3 separate regions of the Homo sapiens genome follow, and regions 2 and 3 are each linked to region 1. The links come from fine-mapping of genetic effects on gene expression. A gene starts in region 1. Each other region holds a variant in brackets. All regions are shown on one strand. Distances are between the middles of the regions.

The links. PIP is the estimated chance that this variant, and not a neighbour inherited with it, causes the effect.
Region 2: its variant is fine-mapped to the expression of P2RY13 in whole blood (TOPMed, PIP 0.95).
Region 3: its variant is fine-mapped to the expression of P2RY13 in whole blood (TOPMed, PIP above 0.99).

Annotation. Positions count from the first base shown.
Region 1 is chr3:151,325,683-151,332,836 of GRCh38, reverse strand. It overlaps P2RY13 (purinergic receptor P2Y13), which reads left to right and starts at 3,288. Exons shown (of 2, transcript NM_176894.3): 1 at 3,288-3,356; 2 at 3,830-6,525. The coding sequence starts at 3,309. The coding sequence ends at 4,846. The region is part of intron 16 of MED12L (mediator complex subunit 12L); the gene reads right to left.
Region 2 is chr3:151,369,744-151,376,897 of GRCh38, reverse strand. It overlaps MED12L (mediator complex subunit 12L), which reads right to left. Exons shown (of 45, transcript NM_001393769.1): 27 at 4,132-4,331; 28 at 684-872; 29 at 24-98. The region is part of intron 1 of P2RY12 (purinergic receptor P2Y12); the gene reads left to right. Among named protein-coding and RNA genes, the nearest start is that of P2RY12, 11 kb to the left of the region's middle. The variant G/A (reference allele first, on the strand shown) is at 3,446.
Region 3 is chr3:151,284,011-151,291,164 of GRCh38, reverse strand. The region is part of intron 16 of MED12L (mediator complex subunit 12L); the gene reads right to left. Among named protein-coding and RNA genes, the nearest start is that of P2RY14, 9.0 kb to the right of the region's middle. RefSeq lists a silencer at 6,850-7,144. The variant T/C (reference allele first, on the strand shown) is at 3,366.

The DNA of each region.
Region 1 (7,154 bases):
CAAAATAATCTGTACACCAAACCCCTACAAAACACAATTTACCTATGTAACAAACCTGCACATGTACCCCTGAACCTAAAATAAAGTTAAAAAAAAAATCACGTCAGTCTACATGTACTAACATGGAATGAAACAAAAATCCAATACATAAATAAATGTAAATATATTTGTACACATATATTGGTATGTATATGTATTAACTTTCACTTTCTACTATATATGTTTGTATTTCAATTTTTAAACATAGTGTGAAATATTAAATGTTCCAAATAGCAGTGAATTTATTGCCTATCTCTAGCTACATGTAGATATTTTCTACTATTGTTCTTACTCAGAAAAACAGATTGTTACATTAATAAAAAGTATAACTTATTTCAGCTTATTATTACCACTTTTAGTTTACCACTTTTAGTTACTCTTGTATGGAATTTTTAAAACAATTTCACATAATCTGAGAAAGTACCATGGTATACTTTGATGGGAAGTAAAAGTCTTTTCTAAGAGTATAGAAGTATAGGAGTTCCTACTTCAATTTTCATCCCAAATGAAAGCAAATACTTCCTCATCTTTTCACATATTATTTATATGGTACTGGGCCTTGGACTGTCAATTTTGATGCAACTGAGAAATCCCAAATAAGACTACAAATGGAAATAGTAGTTTATTCCTATCTGGCTAGAGACTGATTTCTGTGACTTTTCATTTTATCTTCTTTGTATCCCTTCTGATCACACTGCTTTCACTCAATTTACATTGGCATAAAGTTTCACAAGTCCATTAAACATTGTGGCTGATTGTTTCCTTCTCACACATCAGGAACTTTCAGCTCAAGAACTCCAGAATTTGGCAAACAATTCCACTGTCACCCTATCTATGGCTTAATCGGAGGCAAGAGAGTGAGGCAGGTTCCAAGCATGGGCTCTGGAACCAGACCAACTGTGTGACTTTACGGCAGATTTGGGTTGCATGATATGGGGAAAATGGCTTAACTTCTGCATTTCCTTTTTTCTCAACTCTAAAAATGGGACCAATCTCTGGGGATTGTTAAGGATTAAATAAGATAATATAATCACTTAAAACAGTATAGCTAGTGTGACTTTACTGATTTTTAACTACATTTCCTTAGAGCCCTATAGGATCTTAAATGTTTAGTTTATTCCCATTTGATAGGCTCCTAGCCTCTGGGATCTTTCACTGTATCTTCTTTGATTCTTCTCTCCTTTCGTGAGACATCACCATATGTATGCACAACATTCCAATTTTCTTTCAATTTCATTTAACAAGAAACCTACATGATACCTACCACATGACAGACATTATTCTAAGCACTGGTGAATGTTCACTCATTTTATTCTTTTAACAACACTGTAAAGCAAATACTATTATTTATTTTTATTGTAAAGATAAGGCAACCATTTCATAGTGGGCATAAGCAGCTTGCCTAAGGTCATAAGAAAAGAAAGAATTGGAAAAAGGAATTGAGCCCAGGCACTCTGGCGCCTAAACATTCTGCTGAGCAGCTTCTCAGCTGTGTCTTCAAGGGCAAAAGGCCTCCCCAGCAGGCAATAGTGCTGCTGTAAACTAAGGAAAAATCAGCTAATACATAAGAAGCACAAACACATAGAAATGAATGATCTATTGGATATTTACTATAGTCAAACACTTTGACATCTACCACATTTAAGAGACTCTATTTCCATAACTCTAGAAACAGGCACTGTAAGTCAGTTCCTCTTTGGAAAGTTTCCCACACTTCAGTGTTTTGAAATTTGACCAAGAAGTGATTTCCAGTTTTCAGATTATGAAATTATCCTGCACAGAATTTATCTTGCTTAAAGAAAAACTATTCCAGATCTTCCTTTAGATTATGGATTTGGGGCTATAGGAAAATTTACAATTAATTTTGTAGGTTAAATTTCTCTACTTAAGAAATAAAGGATTTTTTTTCCTCTGCTGAAGCAAACAAAAAGATATACATTTATGTTTAAGACATACATGTATGTTCTATTAATGAAATCTTGAATCTATACTCCCAAGGATTAATTTATTTCAGTCAAAGAGAAATTTTTCAAACTGTGCCGTTATTGGGTAGTCTAATCAAAACTATTAGACACTGTATTGCCTCATATTTTAAAATGTCCAGGGGGATATTAAGTTTTTCTTCTCAGAATTCAAAGCCAAGTCACCCAAAACTTTGTGATCAACTAACACTAGTCTCGTCTAACTCCATGGTAACACTTGTGGCAAGAAACATGAAATGAAACTCACCATGAACTCCACATCCTCCGTAAGATCTCCTAATTTCCGCTTTTCCTATGCCTACCTGGCAAGTAGATTTCTGCCATGGACAACAACTTTCTCTATGCAAAAGCACCATTACATCTTTCAAACTTGAAGAGAATTAAAGCAAAAAAAATGCACAGATATTGGCCCAATGTTGATTGATGAAATTCCTGAAGTCCTCTGCACTCGAAATACACCAAATACAAAAAAGATTTCTAAAAATGGCCCTCTACTAAGTGAAAGAGTATAATATCTCTATCTGGATTTGCAATTCATTCCCATGGCAATGGGACTAAAAGCCACTAAAAGTGGCTAACATTTTTTAGTGCCTCCTATATGTCAAGCACTATTCCAGGCAACCAATTCATTCTTAATAACACAGTGTGTTAGATACTATTTTCAAACCCATTACACAGATGAGGAAATTGAGACACAGAGCTGTTGAATCATTTATCTATAATCTAATCCCAATTAATTGGTGGAACTGGGATTCTAACTCCAAAAATCTGGATCTAATAGTCTTCACCTCTCAGAAAACATCATGTTAACTCTCAGAGATCCCCAAACCAGAAGACTAAGTCAAATACCTACAAAAATAAACATACCGTCTTCCTGAACACAAATTACTGGAAAATCCAGTTTACAAGGATACAGAAGATTATTCTGTCTGATTTTAGGTAGTCTTATTCTCCTACTTGATTGTAATTTGGGACTATTTTCTTCATCTTTCTACTTTCCACTATATACAAGAGGCACTCAAAAAGTTCACTGAACATGCAGATCAAGAAGATAAACTTCAAGAAAGTTATGAAGAAATTTAAAGATAATTGCAAATAAGCTTCTTTATTCAAGTCACAGATTAACAGTATGAAAGTTTGAACTAAAATAGAGTATTAGCAAATGTCCCAAAGGTCTAAATATGAAGAGGTTCTAATGGGTCACATTACATAAGTAAAAATAAGGAAGGAAATCCACTATAAGAAAGCAGAACATTTGCTTCACATGCTCATTTGTAGGCTGAACTAATGACTGCCGCCATAAGAAGACAGAGAGAACTGAGTATCCTCCCAAAGGTGAATTTCAATTTTTGTTATTATGAGTGTGCTTGCTTATATAAAAGAATATGCTTAAGGGAAAAAAGGTGCTTTAAAGTTAATATTCTACAAACCATAGTTTATGAGCATAAGAAATTACATAATTTACAGCAATCTGATGTATTAGTAATAATAATGTATTATTATCTCTTAAACAGTGTTTTGTTTTATGGCTAACAGTAGCACCTGTGAATGAGGCAGAACCTGTTATTTGGATTTCACAAGGATGTGAAAGTAATGGTACTGTTAAAAGTACCAAAAATGTATTATATGCTTTAAAAATTCTAGCCAGAAAACAGTATTTTCCTTTTCAACACATCTATTGAAAGTGTTGGATAAATGCAGGATGTTAATATGCTATAAACATAAAGTCTGTTTTTAAAAAATAGCATTTGAAAATCATGAAGGGCTTTTTGTTTTCTTTTGTTTGTATATATGTTTATTGGTAACAGGTGACACTGGAAGCAATGAACACCACAGTGATGCAAGGCTTCAACAGATCTGAGCGGTGCCCCAGAGACACTCGGATAGTACAGCTGGTATTCCCAGCCCTCTACACAGTGGTTTTCTTGACCGGCATCCTGCTGAATACTTTGGCTCTGTGGGTGTTTGTTCACATCCCCAGCTCCTCCACCTTCATCATCTACCTCAAAAACACTTTGGTGGCCGACTTGATAATGACACTCATGCTTCCTTTCAAAATCCTCTCTGACTCACACCTGGCACCCTGGCAGCTCAGAGCTTTTGTGTGTCGTTTTTCTTCGGTGATATTTTATGAGACCATGTATGTGGGCATCGTGCTGTTAGGGCTCATAGCCTTTGACAGATTCCTCAAGATCATCAGACCTTTGAGAAATATTTTTCTAAAAAAACCTGTTTTTGCAAAAACGGTCTCAATCTTCATCTGGTTCTTTTTGTTCTTCATCTCCCTGCCAAATACGATCTTGAGCAACAAGGAAGCAACACCATCGTCTGTGAAAAAGTGTGCTTCCTTAAAGGGGCCTCTGGGGCTGAAATGGCATCAAATGGTAAATAACATATGCCAGTTTATTTTCTGGACTGTTTTTATCCTAATGCTTGTGTTTTATGTGGTTATTGCAAAAAAAGTATATGATTCTTATAGAAAGTCCAAAAGTAAGGACAGAAAAAACAACAAAAAGCTGGAAGGCAAAGTATTTGTTGTCGTGGCTGTCTTCTTTGTGTGTTTTGCTCCATTTCATTTTGCCAGAGTTCCATATACTCACAGTCAAACCAACAATAAGACTGACTGTAGACTGCAAAATCAACTGTTTATTGCTAAAGAAACAACTCTCTTTTTGGCAGCAACTAACATTTGTATGGATCCCTTAATATACATATTCTTATGTAAAAAATTCACAGAAAAGCTACCATGTATGCAAGGGAGAAAGACCACAGCATCAAGCCAAGAAAATCATAGCAGTCAGACAGACAACATAACCTTAGGCTGACAACTGTACATAGGGTTAACTTCTATTTATTGATGAGACTTCCGTAGATAATGTGGAAATCAAATTTAACCAAGAAAAAAAGATTGGAACAAATGCTCTCTTACATTTTATTATCCTCGTGTACAGAAAAGATTATATAAAATTTAAATCCACATAGATCTATTCATAAGCTGAATGAACCATTACTAAGAGAATGCAACAGGATACAAATGGCCACTAGAGGTCATTATTTCTTTCTTTCTTTTTTTTTTTTTTTAATTTCAAGAGCATTTCACTTTAACATTTTGGAAAAGACTAAGGAGAAACGTATATCCCTACAAACCTCCCCTCCAAACACCTTCTCACATTCTTTTCCACAATTCACATAACACTACTGCTTTTGTGCCCCTTAAATGTAGATATGTGCTGAAAGAAAAAAAAAACGCCCAACTCTTGAAGTCCATTGCTGAAAACTGCAGCCAGGGGTTGAAAGGGATGCAGACTTGAAGAGTCTGAGGAACTGAAGTGGGTCAGCAAGACCTCTGAAATCCTGGGTAAAGGATTTTCTCCTTACAATTACAAACAGCCTCTTTCACATTACAATAATATACCATAGGAGGCACAAGCACCATTATTAAGCCACTTTGCTTACACCTTAAGTGTGTACAATTCAAGTGTGAGAATGCTGTGTTAACTATTCTTTGGAATTCTCCTTCTGTCCAGCAAATACTCTAATGATGGTTAAACATGGCACCTACTCAGCAATGCCTTCCTGGACCACAACCCCTATCCCCCTGCCCCACCCTCCTCATTAAAAACAAATACTTCTACTGTTTGGGTGTGTGATAGGGTTCTCAATGCAGATCTCCCTTTTCTAGTTAGCTATATTCTTGACTGCATCCGCTAAAAATGTTAAAGCTTCTTGAGAGACAGACATGCCAGATTTTCTTGGTATCTCCCATAATACGACCTACAGTCCATGGTCTACAGATGTTTTAAATAGAATTGCTATTCTCGATACATACAAAGACGTAATTGCTGACCCACAATCAGTAACATCCATATTGAGAGATTTTTCAAAGGATGGTGACCCTGCTTGTATTTATTTACCTTGGTATTTTTTCTTGCATCCTTCTGTGATTCAAAAAAGTAAAATGTGGCTTTCTGAAATGATGGATAAGAGTCTACATCTTCTAGAAAAAATACATAAAGGAGTAGTTAAGCTCTGTAAATGTGCCACGAGCTCCAACACGACCATCGTAGGGTGAAGCCCACGTTTTCTTCCATGGCCTCAAAGGCCCTAGAACTTGCCTACCTTTCTGGCCTTACCTCCTAGCTACTTATCCATCTCTTGAACTTTATACTCTTGTATAAATTTCTAACTTTCAGAAAATGCCATACTCTGTTTTGGCACCACACATGTATATTTCCCCCTGGTACACTTGGAAGACTCTTATCCATCTGTGAAACCCTATGTTGTCATCACTTGGTCCATGAAATATTACCTGGCCAATATCCCACCATCACCTCAAACCCAATCACCCCCTCCTCTGTATGCTGTCACACCTATATTATTAAACTTATCACATTGCATTGTAATTACTTCCTGACCTTTGTATCTACTCTTTTAGTAACTGATGTATATATCTGAAAGGAGAGATTGTTTCATTGTGCAATCAATAAATGTTTGATAAAATAAAGCCCATTTGGTTTATTTTATGTATTAGAGAAGCAAAAGGGAAGCCAATTCTCATTGATGTTTTTATTATCCAAAGACAACATAAATTTCTTGAAATGAAAGCTCAAGCTCTGTCCACTCTCCTATAACATGTATGTAGGGCCTGAAAATTGTGGTGCTCCTGGGGTCACTAGTGAATGATCATGACAACAGGAGGATCATGGAATAGCCAAATCCAAAGTTTTAAAGCTATTGACAAAATCCTTTAGCTATGCACTATTGATAATGGTTAAGTAAAATTTGTAACTGTGAATATAACAAACACCTTTAGAAAGTACTCTTGATGTCTGATCTTCATTCTCTCTGATAAAAGAATTAAATAATCATTACTATTAGGGATGCCACTAAATCCATATTACCTCTACTGAGTACATTACACAATCACAAATAGACTATAATCATGTAAATAACTGCATCCAAGCTACCCTTGTTAAACAGCCAGGTATGTCTGGTGGGGTAACCTGTGTATTTTGCCTCTAATGACAATTTCAATCTCTACTTAATGTGGGTACACCTAAAGTATACAATTTTTGGGAAAGATCTTTCAAGATAAATTCCAAGACCAAATCTGTCATCCATAAATACAAATAT
Region 2 (7,154 bases), 44 kb before region 1:
ATAAGCTTTCAATATAAACTCACAGGGTCCTTCAAGCACTGTTTGATCATTAGCTGGAGTTCTAACCAGGATTGCCTCAGTGTCCACTGCTCAAGATTCTGGGAAAAATGGAAAGAATTAAAACATTATGGGTATCAAATGTGTTAAAATACAGTAATTTCTTACAGTACTCCTTCTCTCAAGAAAGAGCAGAATAATCATACACAATGAAATAATTTATATGAGTCAAAAGGTTCCCAATCTTGCTGCATATATATTCAGTAGCGATACAAACCAATAAACAGAAACATTAATTATTAATTAGTTAATACTGTGCCTGACTCAGCTATGCACTGAAACTAAATAAGCATTTCTCCTTTCAAAATCTATTTAACCAATCCCAATCCAAAATGATTTCAATATTTCTTTAATAATATATTTAACATAGCCCCTCTCTGAAGCATATTTCTCATGTAAATACAATACTGATTTAAAATATCAATATTTGTTTGATGATCATATACAATTTGCAGCATGTACATCCACCCAAAAATAAAGTATGTCAATTCCACAGAAAATGTGTGGGAATAAAAATCAGAATTGAAATCACAAATTAGCAAGGACAAAAAAAGAGAGGAAGTAACTCTTTTTATTATTACGAAGAATTTATCAAATGACAGAAACACAATCTGTATACGACTGACCTGAAGAATACGCTTAATGTGCTGTCTTTGCAGATTGTCCCCCTCGGTACATTCTTTAATGCCATGAGGATAACAGATAAGCTGCAGTAATTTCTGTGCTTGCATATTTGAAAGCACAGGGTCCAATATAAGTTCTTTGTCTGTACATAATCTTTCAGGTTCTTTTAAGCAATGCTCTCCTACCCATTCCTAAAAATAATATGGCAATTAGATTGACAGGCACTGGCTTTCGGTATATATATATGCAATATGTACTAAATCCACAGTGCATAATTGAATAGAAAACTGATAGGAATTTTCCAATTTAAAAAATTACATTAAAAAGTAGGTAGAAAAATTTTAAAAAACAAAATTTTTAGCATTTTGGCTTCTAAAAAATACAAAGTAGAACTTGCTTAAAAACATTTTTTAATGGGAAAAAAGAAAAGACAATAAAGAGAATATTAGTATGTTTTTAACTGGAAAGTAAGGTCTTGCTCTAGGCACTATTTTGTGTCAGTTTTTTCTAACTTGCTATATAATGATTCTATCAGATATACGTTCTTCATAATTTTTATGGAATACATTGTACTATCTCACTGACTAGATACAACATAGTATAACAAATATTTAGAAAACGATCTTCCTTTTTGATACTATTATGAATAATGTTATCATTATAAATGAGTAGTAGTGCACATCTCTTTTTTATACAATAATTTTCTTAGGGTAATTTCATAGAAGTGCAATTGCTGGGTCCAGTGTGAGTGGGGGGCTATAGATGCATGGGGTTAATGACCCTCTGAAGAGTTTCTACCAATTTAAACTCCTATTGCCTTTTCTTTACCATTTTTTTCAAAGGCAAATTATTATACTAAATAAAGTAAGAAATCATCAACAGTAACAGAGCCCAATTTGAACCCAGATCTATTTCGGGTGAAGTCTGTTTTTTAACCACCATACCAGTGGCTCAATGCTGGTTGCCCACTAAAATTACCTGGGATCTTTATAAAATTCCATGCCCAGGGCCCACATCAGACTAATTAAGTCAAACTCAGGTGGTGGCACCCAAATATCAGTAATTTTTTAGGCATCCAAATTGTTTTAAATGCCCCAGCTGATTCCAATATGCACTCACAGTTGGGAACCAACACACAATTGCCTCTCAATACTTATATGACTATGTAGCTATCTTTTACCATAGTTATAACATGCCTGTAAAAATACAAAAACATGACCCAGTCGGTATGACACCTATAGCAAAGTACAAAATAATATATAAGGTATGTCACTTTTTTTTTATAAGAGAACTTTTAAAACAAATATATGGGAGGGAGAATAAACCAAAAAATAATAAAACTGGATCATCTGGTAAGAGGGATATGGGAGGGAGACACATCTCTGAGTATACTTTTTTGTATAGTTTCACTTTTGAAAGTAAGCTATTCTATAGCCAGAGCTGGGGACAAGAAAGGAATTTAAATAATGCAAAACCAAATGAACCTAGTTCTATTTCACATAAAGAATACACTCATAGGGATGGGAAAAGTTCAAATAATTTTTGAACACAGTATTTTAAACCCTTAGAGAAAATGGAATTGCAAACAAATCTTCAAAGCCTTTTAGGTAGGTTTGTTCTTCCTAGTGGTATGTGTGTAACATTTCTTTCTTTCTTTCTTTCTTTCTTTGAGACAGAGTCTTGCTCTCTTACCAGGGCTGGAGTGCAGTGGCGCAATCTCGGCTCACTGCAACCTCCGCCTCCCAGTTTCAAGCGATTCTCATGCCTCAGCCTCCCAAGTAGCTGGGATGACAGGCATGTGCCACCACACCTGGCTAATTTTTGTATTTTTAGTAGAGATGGGGTTTCACCATGTTGGCCAGGCTGGTCTCAAACTCCTGGCCTCAAGTGATCCACCTGCCTCAGCCTCCCAAAGTGCTGGGATTACAGGCTTGAGCCGCTGCGCCCTAGCCTAGTGTACATTTTTGATACTGTATTTTAATTAATCATTTTTTGACAAAGCGCTGGATAGCACATTTAACATGCCCGGCCATGTGTAACATTTTAAAACTATTTCAGATGTATCATAGAATTAAACAAACAAGTAAATTGACGTTTTTGGGAATCAGCATTCTTACTAGGGAAGAAGGTGATACTAATATGAATTAGGGGAAAACACAGAACAACTTTGTGGGGTTGGATTGGAATTGAAGGTATCAGTAGGACCTCATAAATATATATATTTACATATATTTAAGTGTATGGATATATTTTTCTTTCTAGCTTTGTCTGCAGACAGGTCGTAGAATTAATGATACTCCATAACCATGAGCATACATAATACCCAGATCTTGGTTTCTCAGTAACGTTCTCTGCTAAATAGAACCAAGGGCTCCTTGGAGGAATAGTTGATTCCAGGCCCGGGGCAGAGAAAGTACAACATGGGCCAGAAACTATGAAAATACCAACTATTTTTAAAATGTCAAATGATGTGATAGGATGAATAGATTCCTACTGCACAAATCTGGGACAGTCTGAACATGAAAATAACTAAGTACAGTATATTATAACCCATATGGATAATAAATAAACAGGGGAGAGGAGGGCAGGCTCTTCCTTAAAATAGGACACAAACTGATATTATGAAGGGAGAGGAGAAGTTGGGGAAAAAAAAAAACCACCATTTTGCAACCATCATAGTAAAGACTAGACTGGGCAAGAATGAAAATGAATGCTTATGAGGGGTGGGGGAGTTAAACAAGGAGAAGAAAATTTGCACTGTCTC[G/A]AAGTATCTCCTCAAAGATTGCTTACTGCAAGGGGAAAATTAGTAACTACACAGTCCCCACTGTATAGTTACTAATCTTGAAACTATACAATGGAAACATCTTAATCAAAATTAACATCACCCTTGAGGTGCAAATGGACATCACATGCCTTCAGACATGATTACCTGAAAGAACTCAAGATTATTTCTGTAGTATCTTGGCCAGGGATGCATAATCTGAAGCTAATCTACAGGAAACCTCAGACAAATCCAACAATACTGGGACAATTAATAAAATCGAACTGTGGCCTATAGATGAGAAAAAATTACTGTACCAAAAGCTAAATTTTCTGATGTTTAATAGCTATATTTTGGTTATGTTATGAAATAATGCAATATTCAAAAGAATAAAATATACAATCTACTCTTAAATGATTCAGAAAAAATAGGTATATGCACCCACATCTCCACATACAAATTACAAAGCACATGTAGCAAAATGTAAAAATTAGTAAATCCGTGTAAAGGATGGACATGAGTTTTTTAAAAATAATTCTTGCAACTTTTCAGCAAACTTAAAATTATTTCGAAATAAAGTGAGCAAGAAAAAAAGGCCCACCTATGCACAAGTTTCCTATAAGTGTAAGTAGCTCTCTCCAAAAGAAGAGTTACGTACTCAAAGTAAAAGGCAAATTAAATTAGAATACCTGTTGACAGATAGTCCTCAGTACATATCTAGCGTATTCTCTTAAATTGGCAGTTTCTATGGAAATGCTTTTCCCACAGGATTTTGGATTTTGTGAGGCAGTCCAGATATCATCAGCATTCCCATCACATCGCAAACCTCTCATGGTGAAGTCATCATTCTTTAAAGAGCTGACACTGTTATTGCCAATTTTGGCATCTCCTAAGTAATAGAATCACAAAAGCAAAATCACAGAAGTTCAAAATATTGCCAAATAATTGAGGAGCAAATGAGGATAGCATTCAGGGATTTAAAATATATGAACAGTATTATTATTGAATAGCCAGTTGTTCAGGAATAGAGAGAATGGATCAAGAGCATAAATGCATGAACCCAGAGAAGTTTCTAACAGAAATGGAGAAAAAGCAAGTTCAAGACTCGGTCCTTATTTTGTTTGTATAATTATAGTTTCACCAAACTTGGAAAGGCCATTATGAATCACACTAAGTAATCAGAGAACATTGGTTTCACCAATATTTCAAGCATGAATGTATTCAAATTCATTTGACTTATAGACAAGGAAAAAATGGGTTACTCACCCTTCTAGATGTCCCTTTTCCATTTCTTCTCTTACAATGACTTATTTTCTATCCATAGGTCAAGAGAAAAGTTTTGCCTTAGCCCACCTTACTATCAACTTCTTGACAAGAGAGATTTATTTCCCTGGGAATGGAAAAGGGCAATGCATACTAAGGAAGCCCTGAAAAGTAGGGCATTCATTGAATAACCCCTGTTTTTTTACCTTCCTCTCTGTAACATACAAATTAGAAAACCTTACCTGATAAATCTTTAGTATACTTAGTGAAATGAAGCTAAGGAAAGTGTTTTCTTCATAACAAAGTTCTGGGAAAGAAACTAAACAGAATGTCTGAATAGCTAGAAATAAGAAAACTCTAGCCATGAGAGACAAATAACTATCATATTTTAAAAGTGAGAGAGTAATAAAAATTCAAAATAAGGATTGCCAAATGACAGCACAGCCTTCAAACTTTTGCCTTTTACTCACAGGATCATAGGCCTTGACAAGAAAATTTCCTGGAACCAACAAATGCTTTTACAGTAGGCCTTCACTGCTTGCAGCAAGTGGGCAAAACAATGCCCAAGTTAATGGAAAAAGCCTTTTAAAACCCACAAGTCAACCAAGAAAAAGTTTTGACTTTGCTGAAAAAAATGGCTTACTGAGTATTTACTAACAAAATCTTAAGCAGAGGAGAGGAATAAATAATGTATTTCAATTTATCAATATATAATCATATGTTTCTCATTAAAATACAAACACAAAGAGTACCAGCTTCACTTTACCCACAGGATTTCATTTAATAGATCACTTCAGGAGCTGAAAGAAAAGACTAAATTCTGCAAGTACCAAAATGTAGTATGCTTTCACTACCGTTAGGTGATGTAAACAACTACCTCTATACCTTGAGTTACATTGTAGAAATTAAAAACCAAATTTGATATAATGGTCCCATCTCCCTAACTCAAAATATATCCTGGTGGATAGGAATTGAGAGTTGGTTAGGGCATGGTAGGGTGGATAAATTAGAGCTTCTGCAAATAAGAAAAGAGAAGAAAGGAAAAGAAAAGAAAGAGAAAAAACAGTACCTGCTAGCCCCATACTAGGAGATCCTCATTTAGTTTAGATGTTAGGACAACAGAGAAGGTATGAGAGTCTGTGCCAGGCCTTCTGCAATTGCATTGACAATAGAATACATTTGAGCGTTCAGTGCCCACCTGGCTCAAAGCTCTGCTGACGTTAAACTGACCTGATCCTGACTTCTTAGACCCAGGGAATCCTCCAAATTATGTGGATGAAGAGGTGGGCAAATTCTACTTGAGATTAGACTAATCCTACAAATCATGGGGCCAGTGTCTAGAAGGTACTCATCTTGGTTTCTGCCATTAGCATATTTGTCATTTATAGATTCACACTTCCAACATAATTTTATTGAAAACTGATTCTTTGCTAGCTTCTCTGATGAGCACTAGAAATACCACAGGTAAAAAAGCCAGTCCCTATCTCTATGGTCCCTACATTTATTTATTAAGTAGAACCGACCAACTGACCTTCCCTTCAAATATGATCACAGTAGGGAAATTCTACTCACTGAAATGAGCACTTAATGTTGGCTGTATAAATCTATAAGCGCCTACACTCAGAGGAGGCTGTGGTCCTTGACGTGGCTCTACCTCCCCTTTTTACTACAAAATTCACAGGCCCGTGTGTGTATCCTTTCTTAAGGTGAAGTTTTAATAGCTTGTTTTATGAAAATTCTGTTATCCTTCCTCATCATCACCAAATAACATTTCCAAAGCAGAGCAAGATTATAGCCCAAAACATGTTATTTAGGACTCATCTAAAGCAATTCCTATCCACTCAGTAATTTCTGTTCTAATGAAGGGGAGCTACTTCTGAACATAAGAGTCAAGACCAAAAGAAGGTACCCAAAGTTGGAATTAGGCAGTCTGACTTGAAGACTTCCTAATCATTCAAAGCCTTTAAGATTTACAGAATAATGTTTTAATGTATTACCCTGTAAATGAAGAGAAAAGGCAGTGCTATTATTCCAGGAAAATTCTTACAAATAAGGATGTAAAGAACATCTTGGACATTATGAATTAAATGAAAAAAATTATTGTGAAACTTAATATTGATTTATCAATAATATCAACATCATTGCAACTATTGCCTGGGTCATCAAAAAACAAAGGTAGAAGGAAATATACTCGTTCAGGGTCATGATAGGAGCAAAAATACTAAGATTAAGACTCAGATTTTCTGGTGTTCTGCTCCTGAAATATAATCTGGATAAAATGTAAACATTTAGTTAGATTACCAAGTCATCCCTGTCTCTCACAAAGTGTGATTTCTGCCACCAGAGAAGGCAAAACAACCCTGTGGGTCTGAGGACCTATTTTACATCAGAATGAGACATTATGCAACTAAAATACCATAAAAAATATTACATGTAAGTTCCCCCAGAG
Region 3 (7,154 bases), 42 kb after region 1:
AAAAAAAAAAAAAACAGAAAACAAGGACAAAATAAAGCGTAGGAACCATTTAAATCTTATAAAGACTGTACCCAGACTAAGCACCACAAGAAGCCAATTATCAATAAATACTAAGCACACGCCATATAAAAAGATACTGTGCTCAGCATGATACATAAAAGAATCTCTGGATACCCCTAAATGACTTCTAAAATTAAATACTTAAGAACAAACATTTTCGATTTTCAACATAATACAAGTATCATAGTAGATGCAGAATTCAGCACACTCCCCAGTCTTCCATCACCATCTAGTGGTAAAATTCACAAAACAGGTGAAGAAAATTCAATTTTTGTCCTATTTACAGCATTCGAATTCACAGTAACACAGCCTAGCACTTTGCTAAAGTTTTCCTTTAAACATCCTTATTAATGCTAATGTATACAAATGTGTATCCTGCAGCTGCCTAGTTCAGTGTAATATGGAAATGCTTGATGAGAATAATTAATGCTGTCAAGAAGTTTTGTTACAGATGTAAAAAAAAAAAAAAACAAGGCTGTAATAACATGAATTTCATGGGAAAATGCTACAAATAGACTGTTCTTTCTAAATTAACTTATAGAAAAATTTTAAAAATGTATAATTTATAGTTTCAAAAGTATACAAAATCATCATTAGAACTGAATAGGGAGGAGTAAGACTACCAGTGTTAAATAAAATTTTCCATCAATTTATCAAGAAACTCCTAAGATTCACTTTGAATGCAACTTTCATTTTGAATACTCTTGAAGTTTTCTTATAAGCCACAATGAAAGGAAATCATCTAAAATTATAAAAATGATTTAAAAAAAAGTCATCCTTAGAGACACACATCTCTTTTTCTCCTTAGTTGGAAACTCAAGATACAGAATTAAATTGGAAATTCCTTTTATTTCAGTTTAGGCAAACATTTTTAATAAAAGTAAACTGGCCAACTTCTCTTTGAATTATGTTAGAGTACGGTCGGAAGTGGTGGCTCATGCCTGTAATCCTAGCACTTTGGGAGGCCAAGGTGATCACAAGGTCAGGAGTTCAAGACCATCCTGGCCAACATGGTGAAACCCTGTCTCTACTAAAAGAATACAAAAATTAGCCAGGCATGGTGGTGTGCACCTGTAATCCCAGTTACTCAGGAGGTTGAAGCAGAAGAATTGCTCAAACCCGGGTGAACCTGGGAGGCGGAGGTTGCAGTGATCCGAGATCGCACCACTGCACCCCAGCCCACGTGACAGAGCAAGACTCTGTCTTTAAAAAAAAAAAAAAAATTGTGTTCGAGAATATTCAGTGGTTGTAGTCTGGGCAGACTCCCCAGCAACTCCTAGAATTGAACCATACATCTGATTTAATCAGCCTATGACAAGAATCTGCAAATAGATACTAGGTTCCCCAGGGTCTCCAAGTCTAGGTATAGGTTTAAATGTTACATGCAAGACTTTTCAACATTCTGGACACATTTACATAAATATATATGCAGACAAACACATAGCATGTATAATTGAGGCTAACAAGTTTAGCATAAAGAATGTAAATCAGCCCCTTAACCCATGATAGTTTTTAAACAGTCTTAAAAAGCTATATACAATGCTTAAGATGGTTACTGCTAGCCTGAAGCAAAATATCTTTCGTAACACAGAAAGCCATCTGTCAATTACCCAACGATGAATTACCTCTACGTATTTTGCAAAAAACCTGAACCATATCATACGTCCTTGAATAGTTCTTGACTTCTTCTCAGTATATAACTTATAATACAGAGTGAGTATCTTTTTCTATGCCTTATAGAATTGTCATGTACCTTTGTAAGTATGAGTCAACTTCCAACATTTTATCCTTTGTGCTTTCTACGTCATGAAATATTTCAAAAATTCCTTAATTGTGAAGTTTCTTGTCAGCATCACTTACTCTGGGATAGCTCATCCGTTCCCTGTAGATGTTAATAACTTTGCCTTCATTAAGTTCATCTAACAGCATATTATAGAGGTTTAACCTTCCCCTGGTTAGCTATTTCTTTTGTATTTCCATATGCCTGTGATTCAAATTTCACTTCCTATATTATCACTTTTCATTTCTCTCCTGAACTTTAATTTTTGTTGGTATACCCTCTTTCAAATATCTCTTTTTGTAAAATGTCATGGAGTTTATTATTGGCAAACAAGGAGGCAACACAACTACACACTTTGCTGCCACCTGTGCATGAACTGAATACCAGATGTGCAGTGACCAATCTCCAACAGACTTTGAAAGAAGTGAGATGACTGGCCACTCCTGTATGTTATTTACATGATGAGCTGCGAACTGGAGAGCTATCAATTAAGTTTGATAGCTTTATGCAACTACTTACAGTTAATATAATGTGGTAACTAAAATTTGGACTGTTGCAGGGAGACTGGTATTATTTAACTAAATCATGATAACTCAAATACATGTCAGAACTGTGAAATCAAGGCCTGCCTGCAAGTGTATATGTAACCATAATCATAATTCAAAGGAAAAACGGAGAGAAAAATATATAATGACATGTAATGGAACATGTAAATGCTTAGGCAGAACTATTTGAAATAATGTCATTCATTCATTCAACATGAAGTGGTCAAATGCTTGGATCTATACATTTAATTATGTGAATTTTTAACAGATACAAATATTTGTGACCCAAACACAACTTATATCATTACCATTAGTGATGTGGATCTCCAAAATAAATAATTCTTGACAAGATTCCAAATAAAGTATTTAGTAGACAGTAGCTATATACTTGGAAAAATTAGGCTGGTGTCTATTAAACCAGAAAAAATACATTTATATGTAAAATAGACTTAAATTATAGGCTCAGATATTAATGAACAAGTTTTTCACCCATGGGAAAGTTAATGGGTCACTCCTATAAGCAGCATGGGACAATTCTTCACTGTGTAAGAATTGTGCCTCATACTTTGCATGCTATAAAGCATTCATGGTCCCAGCCACTGAACATAGGGACAACAAGAAAATATCCTGAAATCAACAAATACTCTCTGGGGCAGTAATGCCTACATTGAGAACCCTGATTGGATTCCTGAGCCATTTGTGGAAAGATAGAAGAATATGACCAAGGTTTCAAGCAATATAGAATCCCAGATCTCTAGATATCAGCAGGTACCAACCAAATTTGGGAAGGGATAGAGTATTAATAAATAAAGGGTAAACTTTTTCTGGGCCGCTTCTATTAATCACAAAAATGGTAAAAAAAGAAAGCAATGATTTCTATAAAGTTTATTAAAAAGCTTCAATAGATGACTGCTTTGAAGTTTTGTACAAATGCTATTTGAAAGATAACTGTAGATATATAGATATACTTCCCATAGAAA[T/C]CCCTAAAGAGGCAAGTTAAAAATAGTGATAATGATCAAATCTTACACAGTGCTCATCAGTCACTGTCCTACATGCTTTACTTTTTAATAAACCTTTAAATCGCCACAAGAACCTTATATAGTAGATATCCTATTACAGATGAAGAAACCGAGGCACACCTAGCTAGGAAGTGAAGTGATCGTGACAGGTTTTGAAGCTCTGGTGTCTGACTACAAAGTCCATGCTGTCACCAGGACTGCAATACTTTCTGTCTCCACCCCATCCAAGGAGGCCGCTTACCCTTGAACTCACTTAACAATACCATCATATACCCAGGCCCCTGAACTGAAAATCTGAGTGCCCTCTTTTCTTCATTCCCATTAACAACCTTTTACCAAATCCTGCCACTCCACCCCCAGAAATAGACAAGGCAGGTCTCTGCCCTGCCTGGCCTGGTACCCACTGTAGCTCAACCCCAGCAGTAGCAAGTCTGGTCTCATGGATAAGAAAGGATTTTGGAGGTAGGCAGACCTGTATCCCACCTCTTACTTTGTGCCATCTGAGAGAGGAAAAATAAACCAACTGCCATGATTTACATTGATGGCAATACTACTTGAGGTCTTGATTTTTCTGCTCCTTGCCAGTCTTTTGCATACTCTTTTCTAGAACTTTTAACATTGACTGATTATTTTCTAATAACATTAAAATACCTAATGTCTACTGAACACTCCCTACATACCAGCACCCGACTTGTATTAACCCATTTAATCCCCAAAACAAACCCATAAGGAAGTACTAGCATTGCCCCTAATTAGAGATGAAGAAGTAACTTTCTAAGGCTTGGGTTGAAGCTGGGAAGCCCTCTCAACTAAAGCCTGAAAAAACTGATTAATAAGCATAACAGACAATATCTAACTATGAGAACATTAGTTTAAGCCAATCAATCATACACTTTCGATCATTTTATTCCCTTATAATTATAAATTAGAATGGCTCATGTAATTTATTGTCAAAACCAGGACACTTTTGAGAGTGAAAGTGTTGCTTGCTGAGCTGGCACAACAGGTTTCAACTGGGACTGTGTAGGCAAACAAGAATATATGCCCCTATGTTCACAATACATAGGAAAATATGTCTATGTTAAGATAGCATTACCTAATAAAACAAGCAGCTTAAGGAAAAAGAACTCCATGAATCCAGCCATTTCATCAATGAGAAGCTCCCCCTCCTGTGAAGCTTCTTCCATGGAGCTAACACAAACTGTGAACCCCTGGATGCTGGATTAGCAGCTATTTAACAAAAATCTCTCATGGATGCTTCCTAAGAGCATGGAGAACAGTTTTCTGAGTTAGTGCCTATTGCTTGAAGTTTTTTGCTTAACACCACAAGAAGGAACACAGCCCATCCAATTTGAATATTTGCTTTTGCTTGCAGAAGGAATAAATAATTTAAATTCTAATTTATATTTTTTCTCTACTCCAAAGCAAAACTATCACAAATCTTTCCTAATACTATGGACTGGTAGGTACAAAATTTATGTTCTGTATTGATTTCAAGAGACCTTTAGAGACAGAAACTACATTTGCCTTTCCAAGGCACTGGTCTCCCTGCAGGCCACAACTAAATGAAAAGCTGATCAGGAGGTAGAGCCATGTGAGGGCACAGAGTACTCTAACTACAACAGCGGGGTCACAGGAAGTCTGTGATTCTCCTGAGAGAGACTGATGATTGCAAAGCCCAATCAAGTAGAAGGTGGGCTCTGAATAAATCCTCCTATCATAACCACACACCATCATACAACTCACCTCTCTTAGTTCATTCCTGCTGCTGTAACAAAATACTTTAAACTGGGTAATTTATAAACAACAGAAAGGTCTTGCTCACAGTCCTGAAAGCTGGGAAGTTCAAGATCAAGGAGCCAACGGATTCCATGTGAGGTGAGGACCTATTCCTCATGGATGGTGCCCTGTGTCCTTACATGGCGGAAGGTCAAAGGGCCTCTTTTATACAACCACTGATCCCATTCACAAGGGCTCTACCCTCATGGCCTAGTCACCTCCCAAAGGCCCCACCTCTTAATACCAACACATTGGGGATTAGATTTCAATATGTTTTTTTCTTTTATTTTTTTTTTATTTCAATAGGTTTTTGGGGGAACAGGTGGTGCTTGGTTACATGGAGAAGTTCTTTAGCGGTGATTTTTGAGATTTTGGTGCACCCATCACCCAAGCAGTGTACAATGTACCCAATGTGTAGTCATTTATCCCTGGCTCCCCTCCCATCCTTTCCCGAGTGCCCAAAGACCACTGTATTATTCTTTTTTTTTTTCTTTGAGACAGAGTCTCACTCTGTCACCCAGGCTGGAGTGCAGTGGCGCAATCTCTGCTCACTGCAAGCTCCGCCTCCTGGGTTCACGCCATTCTCGTCCTGCCTCAGCCTCCCGAGTAGCTGGGACTACAGGCACCCGCCACCACACCCGGCTAATTTTTTGTATTTTTTAGTAGAGACGGGGTTTCACCGTGTTAGCCAGGATGGTCTTGATCTCCTGACCTTGTGATCTGCCCACCTCAGCCTCCCAAAGTGCTGGGATTACAGGCGTGAGCCACCACGTCCGGCCAGTCCACTGTATTATTCTTATGCCTTTGTATCCTCATAGCTAAGCTCCCACTTATAAGTGAGAACATATGCTTGGTTTTCCATTCCTGAGTTACTTCATTAAGAATAATGATCTCTAACTCCATCCAGGTTACTGCAAATGCCATTATTTTGTTTCTTTTTATCAACACATAAATATTAGAGGGACACAAACATTCAGACCACAGCACCACCTCATGACCACTGAGAATTAGACAAGGGTAACCAGCACAGCTGTTCCTTAAATGGCTCATTCAAAGACTAAATATAAAATTTTGGGCTGGGCACAGTGGCTCACGCCTGTAATCCCAGCACTTTGGGAGGCCAAGGTGGGTGGATCACCTGAGGTCGGGAGTTCGAGACCAGCCTGACCAACATAGAGAAACCCTGTCACTACTGAAAATACAAAATTAGCCAGGTGTGGTGGTGCATGCCTGTAATCCCAACCACTTGGGAGGCTGAGGCAGAAGAATCACCAGAACCCGGGAGGCGGAGGTTGTGGTGAGCTGAGATCACGCCATTGCACTCCAGCCTGGGCAACAAGGGCGAAAACTCTGTCTCAAAAAACAAACAAACAAACAAACAAACATACATAAAAAATTTGGCCTCACTGATTCTTCATTCTGATTAAACTAACAGGTCCACACATAATAGCCTAAGAATAACTGTTGTGCTCAAATTATTAATTATAAAGATATGCAGCTCTCTACAGCATTAATTGCCTAAAACCACTATTCTAGTCAGGCCACCAAGGAAATTAAATTACCAAGATAACCACACAACCCTCCCACAACCCAGAACTAAAAATAAGTGTGCTTAGCTAAAATCATTTGCTGGGCAGAGATGACTGATCTACATAATGTCAGGTGCGGCTTATTCTTTGGGTAGAAAAAAAAAAACAAACAAAACTCTACATGTGATCACCCATAGCACTTCCTTTGATTTCAGTTAACCCTCAGTCAAGTTCCCTGAAAAGTCAACACCACAAATCTTTCCTTAAACTTGCTGAGGCCATGCTCCTCCCACACATCGTGGCAGGATGACAAGCAGCACTGTTTATCAGAACAACTGTGGGAAAGTTTATCTGACAAAAACGAAGTATGTTCTTACATTCATTAAGTTTCATTCCAGCTCACTCAGTGACTTCCCAAGGCCTGTTTTCCTAACTTGTTCTA